Linked DNA regions of Homo sapiens: all the other regions are linked to region 1. The links come from fine-mapping of genetic effects on gene expression. A gene starts in region 1. Each other region holds a variant in brackets. All regions are shown on one strand. Distances are between the middles of the regions.

Region 1 (2,756 bases):
TGCAACCTCTACTTCCTGGGTTCAAGTGATTCTCCTGCCTCAGACTCCCAAGTAGCTGGGATTACAGGCAGCCACCCCTATGCCTGACTAATTTTTGTATTTTTAGTAGAGACAAGGCTTTGCAATGTTGACCAGGCTGGTCTCAACCTCCTGACCTCAAAAGATCCACCCACCTCAGCCTCCCAAAGTGCTGGGATCACAGGCATGAGCCACTGCATCCAGCCACTTGCCATGCATGGCATTTAAAAATGTTCAGTAAATGTTACCATAATGAAGGCTGGTAGGTTGGCCAACTGAGTGGTCTGATTCAGAAGGAAAGAAGTTAGACATACGTGAACATTTCCTGTACTTGAAGATCCTCAGGACAGTGACTCCTAGACCCATCTTCCATCACAGTCAGCTGGGAAGCTTTTAAAAAAATGCAGACATCTGACCTTCACGCTAGACCTATTAGCCAAGCAGAAGTTTCTGGGCAGGGCATCTGCATATTTTTAAAAATCTTTAATAAGGCAGCCTCAAAATTACAGATTCAGCACGCATTTACCATAACCACTGAAGAAATGCAAAGTTATAAAAAGAAGATAAACAACAATCTGTCTCCTGCTTTCTTCCCTCTCCTCCCCTGCTTCTGGAGGCAACAAGGTCAACTATTTGGTGTGATTCCTTTTAGCATTCCCTCCATCAATGGTCACATAAGGATGCTCACAGATAAGCACCTATGCGGGGGTTTTTTTTTTCCTTGTAAAACTATTCACATACTAAATACTTTCCTCAGTATCTTGCCTTTTTTCACTTCATGTCACAGAAACATCTCTTCAGGTTTATAGATACAGGTCCAGCTCTTCTTTTCATAGCCATATAACATTCTGTAGAATAGAGAGGACACATTTTACTCAGTGTCCGATTGATGGATATCAATATTGTTTTCATTTCTACAAATAGTCAAGGAATAACATAACTCTGTAAAAGTTTTATTACTTATAGGCGCATTTATGCCTAAAGGATAGTCTCAAAAGAGTGAAACTGATCAAATGTGCATTTTTTTATTTTAATAGGTATGGACAGATTTGTTCTCAAAATGTTTGTGGCAGTTCAAAACACCAGTAAAACAGGGGAGATATGTATTTTGGAAAAGCACCCAAGGCGATTCTGAAGTGTAGCCCAGGATAAGAACCATTGCCCAGAGCTGTTCCAGATGGCCCCTGGGTTCCTGAAGTGGGTATCGGGAGAGAAATCTTCACTGAATGAATGAGTGGGCTCCCCAGGGAAGTGATGAAATGGTCCTTATCAGCCTTGCTATCTCCCTCTGACAGAGGCAAACTCTCTCTCCCTGGGGGAAGTTCCTCCAAGGCCTCTATATAAGAAGTCTTTGTGAGAGGAAGCAAAGAAGGACCTGGGCTTTGGGAAGATCTAAAGACCCAGGAAGGTCTCTGGGTGGGTGAGTGCTTTCTCTGCTGTGGTGGAGCTGGTGACAGTTTATTCTCCCAGGAGGTCCCTGGCTGTGGCTGACAGTTTCTGGAGGGCTGGCAGGCGTCTACCTGTGGCTTTCAGGTTATGAGGATGTCAGCAGGGGCAGCCTTCATCCTCTGCCTTGCACATTCCTTCTGCGGGATGTGAAAGTGCTCCTTGGCTGGGGAAAGGAGATGGTGGAGACATGGAGGAGGGTGTGGGTGGCTTCTTGAACTCTGAGGAGGGGACATACCTTCTAAGTCCTATGTGTTCCTAGGAAAGCCAATAATCATTGCTTCTCCCGCCTTTTTTATGTCATAGACTCTGAGGGACCCATTAAGTACAAACAAATAAGCGTAATAGTCCCTTCTTTACTTCCGGGCCTGAAGGAAAGCCAGCCTCAGCCACCCCTCAGGGTTTGCTGCGTTCTGTTTAGAAAGAGGTCCTTGCGTCCTGGATCCTGGAGCATCAGGAGCTGGGCTTGGCATGAGCTTTTCTGGCCCATCCTGATTTCTATTCAGGCCTTCTTTTTCTCCACCTCACTCCCACGGTCCCCTAATGGTGTGATTGTGATGTGTGTGCATGTGTGTCTGTGTGTGTCAATGACAAACTGTGTTCTCCGTTGCAGGATAAAGCCAAGATGAAACTCCCCTTACTTCTGGCTCTTCTATTTGGGGCAGTTTCTGCTCTTCATCTAAGTAAGTGTTTTTTGCCTTCAGTCTTTCTTTCTCTGTTTTTTCCCTTTCTATGGTAGATGGGGTCAGAGTTACACACCCACCCCCTTCTTTGATCGTCTTCTATTTCTGAATTTCTGTGTGCTTAAAGGGATGGGGACTCTATGGCCAGGAGTTGAAAGGATTTCTCAAGGCGTCTGTTATGTCTGTGGTCTTGGTTCTACTGTGACATTCCCAATTTTGTCCTTTCTCCATTATGCTTACTTTGAGCTTACTGAGTGCCTTCTCTCCTTTAACTCTCTTAGCATCGCCATGAAGTAGGTGGTATTGTATACCCATTTCACAGAAATACAGCTGGTGGATGATGGAACCAGTACCCAAGCCCATGACTGCCCGACTCTAAGTCCATGCTCTTAACCACCTTGACCTTGTCAGGCAGCTTGGGTTCCCCTCATAGAGACTGGGTTCCAGGTTCCCCTTCCCAGGCAGAGTTGAGCACTCTGATGCCCAGGGCAAGGTGTGAGCTGTCTGTGGTTCTGGGGAGGAACAAGGGGAGATGTGAAGGAAGGACACTTAGCTATCCTCCCTGCCAGGGTCTGAGACTTCCACCTTTGAGACCCCTTTGGGTGCTAA
Region 2 (2,756 bases), 36 kb before region 1:
CTCCAGGGGATGGTTTCTGAAAAGCCCTCAGTCCTGGTTCTTGGCTTCCTGATTCTGTGGTTGGGATTTTTTTGGCAGCTCTGGGAGTGTGAAACTGGGAGAGACGGTTAAGCTGGTGAGCAAATAGGAAAAATATGTTCCCTGCCAACCCAGCGGTCAAGGCAAAATGCACAAATAGAGTGTGTGTGTCCCTATGCCCTCATGTGCTGTCTGTGTGTCCTCTGGGTGCTGGGTGTGACATTTTCCCTAGGTGGGCCTGAGCGAGTAACAGCATTCAACTAACTTGGTTAGGGGAGGCAGAGGCAAGGGGGCTGGGAGGCTGAAAGGCAGCGAGGAGGGAGGGAAAGACACCGCTGGGGTTCTAGGGGGTTCTAGAGGGAGAAGTTTCAAGAGGGAGAGGTAAAAAGGGCGCGGGAGGCTGTGAGCAAGGGAAAAGAAGAAGGAAGTGATGGAGAGTGGGAGGTCTGCCCCAGCCCCTTCCGGGCGGGCAGGAGGGGGCGGAGGCGAGCAGGGGACTGGGAGGGGCTGCGAGAGGCGCGAATGCGAACCTGGCCCGTGCGGAAAGGGCGCGGAGAGCCCCGGCGCGGAGCAGGCGGGTAGGGCGAAGGGTCCCCTTTCGGGCGCCATGGGGCGCCGAGCGCGGCCTGGCCCCTCGGGCTCCTCTGCGGGGAGGGCAGGCCGCAGGCTGGAGCGGGGTGCGGAGGCTGGCGGGGAGCGGCCCCCGGAGGCTTTCCTGGTAGAAGTTGATGCGAGGAAGGGCGGCGGGGACCAGGTTTGCGAGTCCTAGGCGAGGGTCATGGGAGTTGGGGGTATTTCTGGCAGTAGAATGGCCTGCGTCGTGACTAAACTAGCCCTGTGACCTTGGGCAAGTTCCTGAAATCCATGGGAGCTTTTGTTTCATTGTCAGTAAACTGAAGATAACACCAACTTGGCAGCGGGAGTTTGTGTCTTCTGTATGAAATCTCCCTGCCTCTGCACCTGGTTGAGTTGCTGTCATTATTTTAGGGGACGGTATTCAGAATTCGAGCGCAGGAGCTCCGCTTCTCCACCTGCTCCCGGGGAGCTATTGGGTAAGTCGTTTATCTCACCTGTGACTCCAGGTGGCCATCAAGACCTGCCTCTCTACTTGCCACGTGGTTACTCAAATGCAGTGCCTAAGATGATGTATTGGAGTATTTATTCCCCACATTTGCTGCCAGCGGCCATGATCAT[C/T]CTGCCTCTTAATGCACCTCACAAATAACTCTAGTCTACCTTTCCCTTTCCCGCAGGCCTCCTCTTCCAGCAGCCTCTATCTTTATTCTACAGGATCCAGAGAATCACCCGCTGATGGTTTTTGCCCAGGCCTGAAACAACCAGAGAGCTACGGGAAAGGAAGGGCTTGGCTTGCCAGAGGAATTTTCCAAGTGCTCAAACGCCAGGCTTACGGCGCCTGTGATCCGTCCAGGAGGACAAAGTGGGATTTGAAGATCCACTCCACTTCTGCTCATGGCGGGCCAGGGCCTGCCCCTGCACGTGGCCACACTGCTGACTGGGCTGCTGGAATGCCTGGGCTTTGCTGGCGTCCTCTTTGGCTGGCCTTCACTAGTGTTTGTCTTCAAGAATGAAGATTACTTTAAGGATCTGTGTGGACCAGATGCTGGGCCGATTGGCAATGCCACAGGGCAGGCTGGTAAGGGCAGGGATGACTTTTCTAAGGAAGTTAAGTCTGGCTCCCACGTGGTGGCAAGGAGCAGGAAGGACTCTGCCCCCTGCCCACCCCTCTTTCTATGATGAGAGGAAGGGTCAGCAGCTCTCACCCCACTTGATCTGGGAAGTGCCTGGGAGGGAGGCACCAGCTCCTGAGGGGTAATTAGGGGCAGCCACATTTCAACTCAGCTTAAGGGACAAGTTTGCGACCGACAAGCTGTCTGAGGTGGAGGGGAGCCCAGCCTGTGTGCTCATTTGGCAGGAAGGCTGGGATGCATGGGAGACCTTTTTTCTACTCCAGACTGCAAAGCCCAGGATGAGAGGTTCTCACTCATCTTCACCCTGGGGTCCTTCATGAACAACTTCATGACATTCCCCACTGGCTACATCTTTGACCGGTTCAAGACCACCGTGGCACGCCTCATAGCCATGTAAGTCCCAAAGGCCAGCCCAGGCAAAGGTGGGTAAGAGGAATCCTTCAGGCAGCAGCCTAGCTTGGAGTGAAATCCAGAGTCAGACAGCCCGGCCACCCTGCCAGGCACCACACCTGCAGCTCGCTCCCAGCAGCTGTTAGGAACAGCCCCAGGCAGCGGGACTCTCTCTAGACTTGCCCACTTCACCACAGCCCCACTTCCATTTCCTTACCTCGTTCCCTGCTCTGCATAAATGTGGCTTCCCTATCACGTGCTGAATTGAGCCGGAGGCCAGGGTGACTTCCTGTAAGGGCTGGCTTGGAGCCAGGGTTACAAAATTAGCAAAACCTAAAATTGCTCTTCTCTTCCTTCACCCCAAGGATCCTTGTCCTCATCCCCTGCACAGCCTCACATCCAGGTTGCCCAGGCTTCATCCTCATCCTCCTCACCGCCCCCCCTCCCCGCCCCAACAGCCAATCACTCCCTAGGGGCTTAGCTAATAGGAAGTTTCTTTGGTATTGCCACTGGTGGAATTTCAGGTCCCTTCTGACTGGAGGGGAGACTGGGGGGGTTTCCTGTGCAGATGAGTCAGAAGGTTCGGGACGTGATCTCACACACAGTGTGTTGCTGCATCCTAATCTCGTGCTCTGTGGCCAG
Region 3 (2,756 bases), 110 kb before region 1:
CCAAGTAGCTGGGACTACGGGCGCCCACCACCACGCCCGGCTAATTTTTTTTTTGTATTTTTAGTAGAGATGGGGTTTCACCGTGTTAGCCAGGATGGTCTCGATCTCCTGACTTTGTGATTTACCCTCCTTGGCCTCCCAAAGTGCTGGGATTACAGGCTTGAGCCACCGCACCTGGCCGATCTTCTAACTTTTTAAAGAGAAGCAAGACATCTGGATTTTTATGTGATAACTCCTGATTTTAAACTGGCACCCAATTATAATTTACAACACTATAAGGGTCAACATTGCCAGCAGAGCAAAACATGGGTGGGGGCAACTGCTGGTCACCGGTGTGCAGCCTCTGGTCTAAAATCATCTTTGTATTTCTTCTTGCTTTACGCATTGTCCCAGCACAGTGCTGTTGTATAGTAAATATCCAGTAAGTGGGTGTAGAATGAATAAACCAATGCAGATAAACCTGTAGAGAGGCCGGGCACAGTTGCTCATGTCTGTAATCTCAGCACTTTGGGAGGCCCAGGCAGGCAGATCACTTGGGCCCAGGAGTTCGAGACCAGCCTGGGCAACAGTTGAAACCTCATCTCTACAAAAAATACAAAAAGTAGCCAGGTGTGGTGGCATGCACCTGTAGACACACCTACTCAGGAGGCTGAGGTGGGGGTATCACTTGAACTCGGGAGGTCAAGGCTACAGTGAGCTGGGAAGTCAAAGGTGCAGTGAGCTATAATTGCACCACTGCACTCCAGCCTGGGAGACAGAGTGAGACCCTGTCTCAAAAAAAAAAAAAAAAAAAACCTGTAGAGAAATGACAGTGATCATAAAGATCACTAAATTATAGGGCTAGCCTGATCCCCAAAGGCTGTGTGGTCCAACCCCTAAGTGCTTCCTGGAGGTGTCTGAGCACTTTCCCCACCTCCTTGGCAGCTGGTACTGAAGAAGACTCTCTGTTGTCCAGGACAGTTCCTTCCATGGCTGGTCAACACTCAGGATCTGCCAGGCCTTTGTGTTCTTCCTTATGTCAACACACAGATTCCTTTATCTTTACTCTTCTGCCAACTGCATGACCTTTGGATATGTAAAGTCAGGGGTCATTTTCACTACTGAGGGCAGATGTCCTCTACCACCCCCTAGTATCCAGGCATTATCACATCCCCTTGTCCCCTTGTTGGTTTTTTTGTTTCCTTTTTCTTTTCTTTTCTTTTCTTTTTTTTTTTTTTTGAGACAGGGCCTTGCTCTGTCACCCAGACTGGAGTGCAATGGTGTGATCATGGCTCACTGCAGCCTCGACCGCCCGGGCTCAAGCAATCCTCCCACCTCAGACTCCCAGGTAGCTG[GA/A]ACTACAGACATGCATCGCCATGCTCGGCTGATTTTTAAAATTTGTTTTGTAAAGACAAGGTTTCCCAATGTTGCTCAGGCTGGTCTTGAACTCCTGGGCTCAAGAGATGCACCCACCTTGGCCTCCCAAAGTCCTGAGATTACAGGTGTGAGCTACTGCACCTGGCCTGGTTTGTTCTTTTAGCAGCACCTGTCACTCTAGAGCTGAGAACTTCCTGTCTCATGTAGTGTGGATGCCCAGCTCCTAGAGTACGTGCTTACCACATGACCCACCAGGAGGGTCAGCTACCCCTTCCTCAGATCCTTCAGGAGCACTTTCTCTGGGCCAGGCACTGTGCAAAGCTCTTTGTTTACTGTCTCCAATTTAATCCTCCTAAGGAGGTCGTGGGTTAGGCATTCTTTGGTCCGGTTTACAGACAAGAAGAAAGTTACTTGGTCAAGGTGCACAGCTAGTAAGGCTGGTGGTGGGAATTCAGACCCTGGTCTGTCTGCCTGCTCCAGGTGCACCCTGAGTTTGCCCTTGGCAGTGCTGCCAAGTGACAACTTGGAGGCCTGGGGGCAGCCACCTCATGACTCACTGAGCATTGAGTAAAGCGAAGCAGCCCTTTGTCTCCTATCACTAGCTTTTCTCCTTAACTTGTCACAACTCCAAGTTGGCAGTTTACCGTTAAGGACAAGTCCTCCAAGTGGACTTCTAGAGGGGACTGGAGGGCAGTGCCTGGTTCTCATTCTGTGCCTCAGCTTCATCACCTAGGGAACGGGATACTTTATTAACTGACTTATGGGGCTGTTGTGTTTAGAACAGTGCCTGGAGCATAGTTAAGTGCTCAATAAGTATTAGCTATTATTTTATCAGACTATCATTTATCGGGAAAGCTTCCTCTAAGTTTTAGTGTTCTTTCTAAATTTCTTTTTTTTATTTAGAGATGGGGTTTTACCATGTTGCCCAGGCTGGTCTCAAACTTGTAGGCTTAAGCGATCTGCCTGTCTCAGCCTCCCACAGTGGTGGGATTACAGGCATGAACTACCACGCCGGGCCATTTTAATGAATTCTTGTTATAGCCATTAGAGTACCACTCACTGCCTTTGCCTTTGCCTCTAGATATGGGGGCACTTCTTGTTGGGGGTCCACAACCCCCTAAGCTTGGACACTGAGTGCATATTACAACTTAGTAAATACTTTTATGTCCAGTATTTCATTTGAGCTAGTTGAAGCCTCAGGCTGTGTGTGCACAAGACTCTCCCAGGGTCAGGTACTAATGGCTGCCATTTCTGGAGCAGCCCCATCAGAGGAGATGTGACTCTAGGGTACCCCCAAAGGCACTTGGCATGGGATTTGAAAGCAGGCCGCCTGACTGTGGGCTGCTGTCTCCTGTGCCCAGCTGTTCCTGGTGTCATGTGCTGAGCCCTCCCTTCCCCCT

Direction of the effects. Positions count from the first base shown, and alleles are read on the strand shown. Sizes are in standard deviations (SD) of each study's normalised expression. Not every link is listed here.
For the expression in sun-exposed skin of the gene that starts at base 1,384 in region 1, T is the high allele of the variant in region 2 and C is the other (small effect, 0.24 SD a copy in GTEx).

The links. PIP is the estimated chance that this variant, and not a neighbour inherited with it, causes the effect.
Region 2: its variant is fine-mapped to the expression of PRG2 in sun-exposed skin (GTEx, PIP above 0.99).
Region 3: its variant is fine-mapped to the expression of PRG2 in unexposed skin (GTEx, PIP 0.96).

The regions. Positions count from the first base shown.
Region 1 is chr11:57,389,278-57,392,033 of GRCh38, reverse strand. It overlaps PRG2 (proteoglycan 2, pro eosinophil major basic protein), which reads left to right and starts at 1,384. Exons shown (of 6, transcript NM_002728.6): 1 at 1,384-1,438; 2 at 2,078-2,147; 3 at 2,717-2,756. The coding sequence starts at 2,090.
Region 2 is chr11:57,424,902-57,427,657 of GRCh38, reverse strand. SLC43A3 (solute carrier family 43 member 3) reads left to right here and starts at 537. Exons shown (of 14, transcript NM_199329.3): 1 at 537-596; 2 at 1,006-1,070; 3 at 1,306-1,669; 4 at 1,988-2,117. The coding sequence starts at 1,486. RefSeq lists a silencer at 418-777 and enhancers at 1,020-1,812, 921-2,120, 1,813-2,605. The variant C/T (reference allele first, on the strand shown) is at 1,213.
Region 3 is chr11:57,501,336-57,504,091 of GRCh38, reverse strand. All of the region lies in intron 2 of SLC43A1 (solute carrier family 43 member 1), which reads left to right. Among named protein-coding and RNA genes, the nearest start is that of SLC43A1, 13 kb to the left of the region's middle. RefSeq lists an enhancer at 2,481-2,756. The variant GA/A (reference allele first, on the strand shown) is at 1,335.